2 linked regions of the Homo sapiens genome follow. The protein of the gene in region 1 interacts with the protein of each later gene in a pairwise test. Each region holds a gene or a part of one and is shown on either strand. Other genes may lie near its edges. The genes, in order: STK36 and FRMPD4.

Region 1 (7,536 bases):
TATGAGTTACCTCTGAATTTTAGTACTCTGCTCTGTAAGATCAGGTCAATGAAGCCTAGGATCTAACATTTCAAAGCACAGCGCTCTAAATATTTAAAAATTACACATAAAAATTTGGGTTTCTACCTTTTCTTAGAAAACTAGAAGATCTGGCTAGTTTTCTCAGGCCCATATTTCCCTGTGGCAACAATGGGCTGGAGGCTGAGGAAAGGATGCCTCTACTCTATTTAGAGGAGGCATGTGAACTCTAGTTCATCATATTCCCCACAACTCATATAGTCACATGCATAGCCTACTTCATGGCAGACCTTATCTGCCTGGCCCCAGAAGGCATTAGAGTTTGCAATTAATAGTCTACTAACTAGAAAGAGGAGGAAAGAAAATAAAAGGCAGTCAGACCAAAGAGAGATGGCAATCTGAATGAGATAAATCCAAGAAAAAGAACCTCTGTAAGTCTTCAGAGGCTTCTGGCCTGGTGCTTACCTGCTGGAGGCTGTTGCTCTCCTGACTGTGCCTGAGTAGACTCAGCAGCAGCCCAGGAAGCCCTGCCTCCCGGCAGAAGGAATACAAGGCAACAGAATCACTGCAGCTGGAGAGAAGACTGCTCAGGACCCGGAATGCAGGCAGGATGTGGGAAGCACCCTCCAAGATGCCTTTCAGGATCTGGGTGACATGAGGGAAAGAGGCAACGATTGATATTTTCAGAGGTAAAAGAAGGAGAACTACACATACCAAGCATCCCCAAGGAGCTGGGAAAGCAGACCACATGCTTGCATTCCTTTCTTTGCAAGTCTAAAACACAGAGAAGGAAAGCAGGGAAATAGGGGAACTGTACCAGGGAAGAAGACAATAGATGGTCAGGTTACCTAACACAGAACACCAGTGACCAACGGATAGGGGCCTCTCCTCAGGATCTCTGTCAGACTAAGTGCCATTCCCATCTGCTCCCTCCCTTCTCCAGCCCTTCACCTTAAAAACAAAAAACACGTGCACCGCACATGCTTCTGAAAATTCAAAACAATGCATATAAAACAATATTATTTAACCACAGAAAGACAAAACAACATTATTCAACTCTAGATCAGGGTTGACAAACTATGGCTCACAGGTCAAATCCAGCCTAACATTTATTTGTATACAGCCTGCATGCTAAGGATAGTATTATATTTTTATTTATTTTTGCCCTTTATTTATTTTTCGAGACAGAGTTTCACTCTTGTCCTCCAGGCTGGAGTGTAATGGTGCAATCTTGGCTCACTGCAACCTCTCTGCCTCCTGGGTTCAAGTGATTCTCCTGCCTCAGCCTCCCAAGTAGCTGGGATTACAGGTGCCCACCACCACACCTAGCTAATTTTTGTATTTTTAGTAGAGATGGGATTTCACCATGTTGGCCAGGCTGGCCTCAAACTCCTGACCTCAAGTGATCCTCCCACCTCAGCCTCCCAAAGTGCTAGGATTACAGGCGTGAGCCACCATGCCTGGCCAGTATTGTATTTTTAAATGGTTATTCTTCAAAAGAAGAACATTTACACCAAGTATTTTATAATATTCCATTAGCTGTTCTAAATGTTGGCATCTGCTCATTTAATATTTACAATAACCCTGTGAAATAAATAGAATTAGCCATTTTATAGATGAAGAAACTGAAGCTTCTGCATAAGTCAAGTAAGTAGTCCAAGATCACGCAGCTAATGAGTAGTGCAGCTGGAATTCCACCAGAGGGAGTCTTATCCCTAAAGGCAGAGCTTTCAGTCTGCCTCCCCACACTGCAAGTTATCCAACACTAGGAGGAAAACGTGTTAGCGCCAAAAGACAAGTGCAAAGTGCCAAGCCAATTCAATGAGGAAAGGAGAGTTCTTTTCCACAAATGGTGCCAGGACAATTATATATCCACATGCAAAAACGATCAACTTAGATCCTTTCCTCACATTATATACAAAAATTAGCTCAAGATGGATCAGAAACCTACATGTAAGAGCTAAAACTATAAAACTTAGGAAAAGAGAAAATCTTTAAGACCTTGCATTTGGAAAAGATTTCTTATACACAACATCAAAAGTATGAACCACAAAGGGAAAAAACAGTAACTGAACTTAAATCAAAATTCAACATTTTTTGCTTCAAAAGACACTCTTATGAGAAAGAATGAAAAGACAAACCACAGACTGGGAGAAAATATTTGCAAATCACCCATCTGATAAAGGTCTTATGTTGACAATATACAAAGAAGTCTTACAACTCAATAACGCAAACAACCAAATTAAAAACTGAGCAGAAGATTTGAGATATTTCACCAAAGAAGATATACAAATGGTGAATAAGCCATGAAAAGATGTTCAACATTCATCATTAGTGGAATGTAAATTAAAATAACAATGAGATACTATCTCACACTTACTAGAATGGCTATAGTAAAAAAGTTAGACAATAACAAGTGTTGACAAGGATGTGAAGAAACAAGGACCCTCATATAATACTGGTGGGAATGTAAAATGGTACAGCCACTTTGGAAAATAGTTCAGCAGTTTCTTAAAATGTTAAATATAAATTTACCATATGACCAGCAATTCTACTCCTACGTAGTTACCCAAGGGAAATAAAAACATTTATCCATACATAGACTTGCTTGTGAATGTTCATAGCAGCATTATTCATAAAAGCTAAAAAGTGGAAACAACCCAATACATCAATATCTAATCAACTAGTGAGTGGATAAACAAAATGTGATATATCCATATAACGGAATACTAACCAGCTATAAAAAGGGGAATAATGATTAACTGTAAATGGGGGCTGGGGGCAGTAGCTCATACCTATAATCCTAGCACTTTGGGAGGCCAAGGTGGGAGGATTACTTGAGCCCACTTGAGCCCAGGAGTTCCAGACCAGCCTGGGCAACATGGTAAAACCCTATCTCTACAAAAAATACAAAAAATTAGCTAAGCATGGTGGTGCACGCCTGTAATCCAAGCTACTTGAGATGCTGAGACATGAGAATCCCTTGAACCAGGGAGGCAGAGGCTGCAGTGACCCAAGATTGTGCTACAACACTCCAGCCTAGATGACAGAGTGAGACCCCATCTCAAAAATTAAAAATAAATAAATAAATAAATTTTAAAAAGGCTGGGCACGGTGGTTCACGCCTGTAATCCCAGCACTTTGGGAGGCTGAGGCGGGCGGATCACAAGGTCAGGAGTTCAAGACCAGCCTGGCTAAGATGGTGAAACACCATCTCTACTAAAAATACAAAAAAATTAACCGGGCGTGGTGGCACGAGCCTGTAATCCCAGTCACTCCAGAGGCTGAGGCAGAGAATTGCTTAAACCTGCGCGGGGCAGAGGTTGCAGTGAGCCGAGATCACACCACTACACTCCAGCCTGGGTGACAGAGTGAGATTCCGTCTCAAAAAAAAAACCGTAAATGGGTATGAGGGATTTTACTGGGGTGATGAAAATGTTCTAAAACTGAACTATGGTTAACAGTTTTTAAATTAGCAAATTTACTAAAAATCATTTATCATTCATCAAAAAAGTGTAAATCTTATACATAAATTATACCTGAATAAAGTGATATAAGCAACACAGTTTGGCGAGTACCCAGGAAGGAAAAGCACTGTGTTTCAGAGGAGCAAAGTAAGGTTTTGTAGGAGGGAACACTAACTTTACACTAACTTTGAATGCTAATTAAGCAAAATGTCATTCCTCTCCCCCGCAAAATAACCTCATTCTTCTCACTAGTGTACCTGTAGTACAAAATATTGTATATTTAATTGTTACATTTATATTTTTAATTTCATCAATAAAAAATTAGTGAAAATGTGTTTTCCCTCATTATGTAAGTACTTAACATAATATCCTCCATTTTTGCCTGGTGGCTCACAATGCCTAAAATATTTATCATCAAAAAAGTTTGATCCCTATTCTAGTAGGCATTTTTCCCTTCAGAAAAAGAAACCTGAGGGCTGCTCTTTCTGTGTTACTAAAGGAGGTTGGTAAACCTCCTCAAACTAAGCAGATAGACTGAAGAACTGGAAAAGGACAAACTTTCTCTTTCTCCTGAAGTCAGTGTATTTCAATGCTCCATCTGTGAAAACAGTCTTGATCCCATCCACAGTGTCTTTCTCCCCATTACCTGCCCTCCAGCTTCATGCAGCTGACTCTGGATGCGCTGGCAGAAGTCAGGATTACACAGCAAGGTGAGAGGAGCCTTCAGTTGAATAGGCACAGGCTCAGTGGTCTCTAGCAGGTGCTGCCACTCATTGTCACTGTCTGGCTCCTGAGGCAGAGGGGAGTGAAAGGGGTCAGGAGTAGTGTGTAAGTCTAAGGTAGTAGATCCCAACCAGTAGAAACCATGGGGAATCATGAAGTAACTGCAAGGAGCCAGTGACCCCTTTAGCACAGATGTATATCTTCAGTCACCTGCTAAAAAAGGTACAGCTGGCAGTCTGTGAGGGGTCTGGAAGAGTCTCTTGGAGAACACCGGCATGTGTGCATAAAGAGATACCTAGAAAGACGTCCGCTGCAGCATGGTTTGTAATAATTTTAAAAAGGAAAAGATCATAAAGTCAGTCACTAAGGGAATAATAAACCAGGGTCCATCCATATTAGAAAATACGATGAGGTTATTAAAAAGATTGTGAATGCCGGGTGCGTGGCTCACACCTGTAATCCCACCACTTTGGGAGGCCGAGGCTGGCAGATCACCTGAGCTCAGGAGTTCAAGACCAGCCTGGCCAATGTGGTGAAACCCCCCTCTCTATGAAAATACAAAAATTAGCTGGGTGTGGTGGCACATGCCTGTAATCCCAGCTACTCAGGAGGCTGACACAGGAGAATTGTTTGAACCCGGGAGACAGAGTTTGCAGTGAGCCGAGATGTCACCACTGCACTCCAGCCTGGGTGACAGAGTGAGACTCTGTCTCAAAAAAAAAAAAAAAAAAAAAAAAGGCCAGGCGCAGTAGCTCACGCCTATAATCCCAGCACTTTGGGAGGCTGAGGCAGGCAGATCACCTGAGGTCGGGAGTTCAAGACCAGCCTGACCAACATGGAGAAACCCCACCCATCTCTACTAAAAATACAAAATTAGCCGGGTGTGGTGGCAGATGCCTGTAATCCCAGCTACTCGGGAGGCAGAGGCAGGATAATCGCTTGAATCCAGGAGGTGGAGGTGGCGGTGAGCTGAGATCGTGCCATTGCACTCCAGCCTGGGCAACAAGAGTGAAACTCTGTCTCAAAAAAAAAAAAAAAAAAAAAAGATCGTGAGGCTGGGCACATTAGCTCATACCTGTAATCCCAGCATTTTGGGAGGTCGAGGTAGGAGGACTGCTTGAGGCCAGGAGCTCAAGACCAGCCTGGGCAATATAGTAAGGCTCTGTCTCTTTAAAAAAAAAAAAAAAAAAGTGGCACATATACACCATGGAATACTATGCAGCCATAAAAAATGATGAGTTCATGTCCTTTGTAGGGACGTGGATGAAATTGGAAATCATCATTCTCAGTAAACTATCACAAGAACAAAAAACCAAACACCACATATTCTCACTCATAGGTGGGAATTGAACAATGAGAACACATGGACACAGGAAGGGGAACATCACACTCTGGGGACTGTTGTGGGGTGGGGGAAGGGGGAGGGATAGCACTGGGAGATATACCTAATGCTAGATGACGAGTTAGTGGGTGCTGCGCACCAGCATGGCACATGTATACATATGTAACTAACCTGCACATTGTGCACATGTACCCTAAAACTTAAAGTATAATAATAATAAATAAATAAATAAAAATAGGCCTGGTGCAGTGGCTCATGCCTGTAATCCCAGCACTTCAAGAGGCCGAGGCGGGCAGATCACAAGGTCAGGAGTTCGAGACCAGCCTGAACAACATGGTGAAACCCTGTCTCTACTAAAAATACAAAAATTAGCTGGGCATGGTGACAGGCACCTGTAACCCCAGCTACTCAGAAGGCTGAGGCAGGATAATCGCTTGAACCTGGGAGGCGGCGGTTGCAGTGAGCCAAGATCGTGCCACTGCACTCCAGCCCAGGCAACAGAGCAAGACTCCATCTTAAAAAAAAAAAAAAAAAATAGCTGGGCATGGTGCCATACACCTGTAGTCTCAGCTACTCAGGAGGCTGAGATGAAAGAATTGCTTACCCCATGAGTTCAAGGCTGCAGTGAGCCATGATTGCACCACTATAGTCCACCCTGTTGTCCAGGTGATAGAATAAGACACTGTCTCAAATAAATAAATAAAAAGATTAAGGTACTGAGGATGTATCACTTATGTAGTATTCCTACCAAAAATATATACAACCTGAATCTATTCATTAGGAAATAATCAATTTGAGGAACATTCTACAAAATAACTGACGTGTACCTCAAAACTATCAGTCATAAAATACAAAGAAAGACAAGAACTGTTCCAGATTAAAGGAGACTAAGGAGGCATAACAACTAAATGCAATGTGTGGGCTGGGCACAGTGGCTCACTGTAATCCCAGCACTTTGTGAGGCTGACGCGGGCAGACCACTTGAGTCCAGGAGTTCAAGACCAACCTGGACAAGATGGCGAAACCTTCTCTCTAAAAAAACACAAAAATTAGCCAGGCATGGTGGCAGGTGCCTGTAGTCCCAGCTACTCAGAAGGCTGAGGCAGGAGGATTGCTTGAGCTCAGGAGTCGGAGGTTACAGTGAGCCGAGATCACATCATTGCACTCCACCCTGGCAACAGAGTAAGACCCTGCTCAATAAATAAATAAATAAATAAATAAAGCAAGGTGTGATACTGGATTGGATCATGGAGCAGAAAAAAAATTTTCATAACGCACATTACTGAAGCAATTAGCAAAATTTGAATAAGGATTACAGATTAGTTTAATTAATCTATTATAACAGTATTATATCAATGTTAAATTTCTGACTTTCATAATTGTACTGTGTTAGTGTAAGTGAAGGATCTTGTTTTAGGAAATATGCGCTAAAGTATTTAGGGGTAAAGGGGCATGTGTACAACTTACCCTAAAATGATTCAGAAAGATGCTATGTCCATAGGGGGAGAGAGAGAGAGAGGATGGTAAAGCAAATGAGACAAAAGTTTTACAACTGATGAATTTGGGGTAAAAGTGTTGTTATAGGCTGGGTGTGGTGGCTCCAGCTTGTAATCCCAGCACTTTGGGAGGCCGAGGCAGGCAGATCACCTAAGGTCAGGAGTTTGAGACCAGCCTAGCCAACATGGTGAAACCCCATCTCTACTCAAAATACAAAATTAGCTGGGCATGATGGCACATGCCTGTAATTCCAGCTACTTGGGAGGCTGAGGCAGGAGAATCGCTTGAACCCAGGAGGCAGAGGTTGCAGTGAGCCAAGATCGTGCCGTTGCACTCCAGCCTGGGCAACAAGAGCAAAACTCCATCTCAAAAAAATAAAAAAAATAAATAAAAAGTGTTGCTATGGTTTGAATGTTCTGTCCTCTCCAAAACTCACGTGTTAGAAACTTAATCCCCATTGCACCAGTGTTAGGAGGCAGCGCCTAATCA
Region 2 (2,551 bases), on another chromosome or scaffold:
GACAATGGTTATCTTTGGAAGTTGGGTTTAAGGGGATTATTACTTTCTCCATCATTTATTTCTGTAATGTTTATTTGATAATATTAAGGAATTCCCAATTTTTAAAATGCAAAAACGTCATTGTGGTTATGTTTAAAAGTTCTCACAGGATATTCTTACTGAAATATTCATGGGCTAAGCACTATGATGTCTGGGACTTGCTTGTAAATCATACAGTGGGAGAGGAGGTGGGTAGAAATACAGAAAATAAGATTAGACATGAATCGGTAGGTAATGAGTCCACATGAATTCATACGATTGTGTCTACTTTTGTTTGAAAGATTTGTGATAAAAGATTAATAAAAATGGTAGGAGATAAACTTGGCAAAGTAGACTGGGGACTAAACATAAAGAACCGTGAGTATAAGGAAGGTTTATTCTCCAGTTCAGTGCTCTCCAGATTTCAGTGAATGCAACCCTACCTGCGACAATATTGTCACATGCATGCACCAGGCATATGCTTATTTATTCATTCATTCATTTATTTATTTAAAATTATGTACATGTACCATTGTACTATTATGCCATTATAAAACATACACAAACATAAAAAAGCTAGATAAAAATAAGCACAAGTATTGTTCTAATATGTTCTTCCTACACTCTATGGACCTGGACCCCAGTTAGGAGCCCCATGCTTAGTGAATGTGGGGGCCCCTTGAGGTTTTCTGAATAGCAAAGAGTTTATTTATAAGAAACAGAAACTTACTGGCGCAGTAATGGGAGGTTGATTAGAAGGACCCAGAGCTACTTCCCTGAGGCTTCTCAAAGAACTCCAATGGACTGGGAAGTTGTTCTAACTAGATACGTAACTTGAACAAGGATGGCCACTTCCTTGTACACTTCTTTTACATATATGCAATACACATAATGTGTTCTGCACACAGTCAGGATACAATATGCATATAAAACAAACATTCCCCCACATATTATCTTGGGCAATATATTTAACACAACGATTATGATGATAATAATAGCTAACATTAATTGAATACTTACTCTCTGCCAGGTATTGTGGTAAGAACTTTACATACACATTTTTACTCAAAACTCATGACAACCCTATGGAAATCGATCTTATAATTGATTTTCATTTTATTATGAGGAAATTGAGACTAGAAAAAGTAGCTTTCCCAACATAAAAGGGCTAGAAAATGGCAGAGTCAAAATTTTAATCAAGATGTTTCTGACCCCAAACCCCATATCCGTAAGAACTCATCCATATTGCCTCCAGAGAGAATAGTGTCCAAACCAGCAGATTGTTGTGATGATTAAATGAGATAATATAGTTAATATGCTTAGCACACTGTCTGACATAGGGCACACATCCTATTAATAGGTTAGGATTTTAGTACACAGAATGATATTTACTAAGATTTTCCACAGTAAACACCACTAATATCTCTCAATATCAAAACACCAATATTTATAATTATAATTGTAATGAAATAATGTTTTATTATTTAGTTAAACATTATTTATAATAACACACACCTAAACTCCTTTCCTTTGCTGCCATCCATAACCACGTGCGGCTTTTGTTGTTGAGTCCCTGTGGAATGGCTGACTAGAGAGAGATTGCAATTGTGGACTGTGTTATGACTCCTTCTCAGCAGGCTACAAAAGTAGAAATATTTGCACCTGGTGTACTCCCATCATGTTCTTAAGGAGCCACCTGTCTAAGTAGGAGTGCATGTAACTTGAGCACTGAATGACCCAGGAAATACATATATACATATCGATTTTATTTTATGACTGCAGGGTACTTTTAGAGATGTGACAGTCCTGGAAAGTTCTTTGCATTCCATTGGTTTCACTTGAACTGGTCAAATATACCACTTCCATTTCTTTCTTTTTTTTTTCAGATTTCATATTTTTATCAGCCAATCCAGATTAAGTATTTATTTAATAAATACTTAACTATTTACTCATGGCTCCCATGATTACAGTAGCCATCTCTCCCTGATTTTCTGGAACATCCAAGATTTGAGATTTTGTCCCAGTACTACGCTATAATTCCAAATTTGACTGGCAGCCTTAGCCTCTGTAGAGGCGGTGATGCATGAAGCCCTATGCTGAGAGCTGTGATCTGAGATGAGACTCACAGGTGCTGGTGTGTGGTCTGGTCTACATTACTGAATCTGTACTTAATTTTGATGATCATTAAATGTTCCTTTTTTTAAGTTTGCAAATACTTTACTAAATGTCCTATCACTCTAAAGGGAATTTTAAGTTTCGTAGTTGAGTTGGGATGAGGGGAAGATAATGTCTTTGGTTTGCAGATTTTTGACATTTAGTCAAAGCAGATCTTTCCATCAAATAATTAATTTTGGTATTATTAATTCCATACATTTTATGTAATGAGATATTCTATAACTCTAGGTGTTACCTAGGAAACTGCCCATCATCCCCTCTGTTCTTCTCCCCGGGAAGTTTTTTAAATGCTAGAACCACTGTGAAGAGCATTTGTGCTGACACAGTAGAATCCATCCCCACCAATTTGTAGCCCCAG

The links.
Region 2: the proteins of STK36 (region 1) and FRMPD4 interact in a two-hybrid assay, tested with the Homo sapiens proteins (one study listed by BioGRID and IntAct).

What each region holds. Positions count from the first base shown.
Region 1 is NC_000002.12:218,681,824-218,689,359, reverse strand, and holds part of STK36 (serine/threonine-protein kinase 36), read right to left. Parts: intron 4,276-7,536; coding exon 4,132-4,275; intron 664-4,131; coding exon 484-663; intron 1-483.
Region 2 is NC_000023.11:12,722,473-12,725,023, reverse strand, and holds the end of FRMPD4 (FERM and PDZ domain-containing protein 4), read right to left. Parts: 3' UTR 501-2,551; downstream 1-500. UniProt on the Homo sapiens protein: Positive regulator of dendritic spine morphogenesis and density. Required for the maintenance of excitatory synaptic transmission. Binds phosphatidylinositol 4,5-bisphosphate.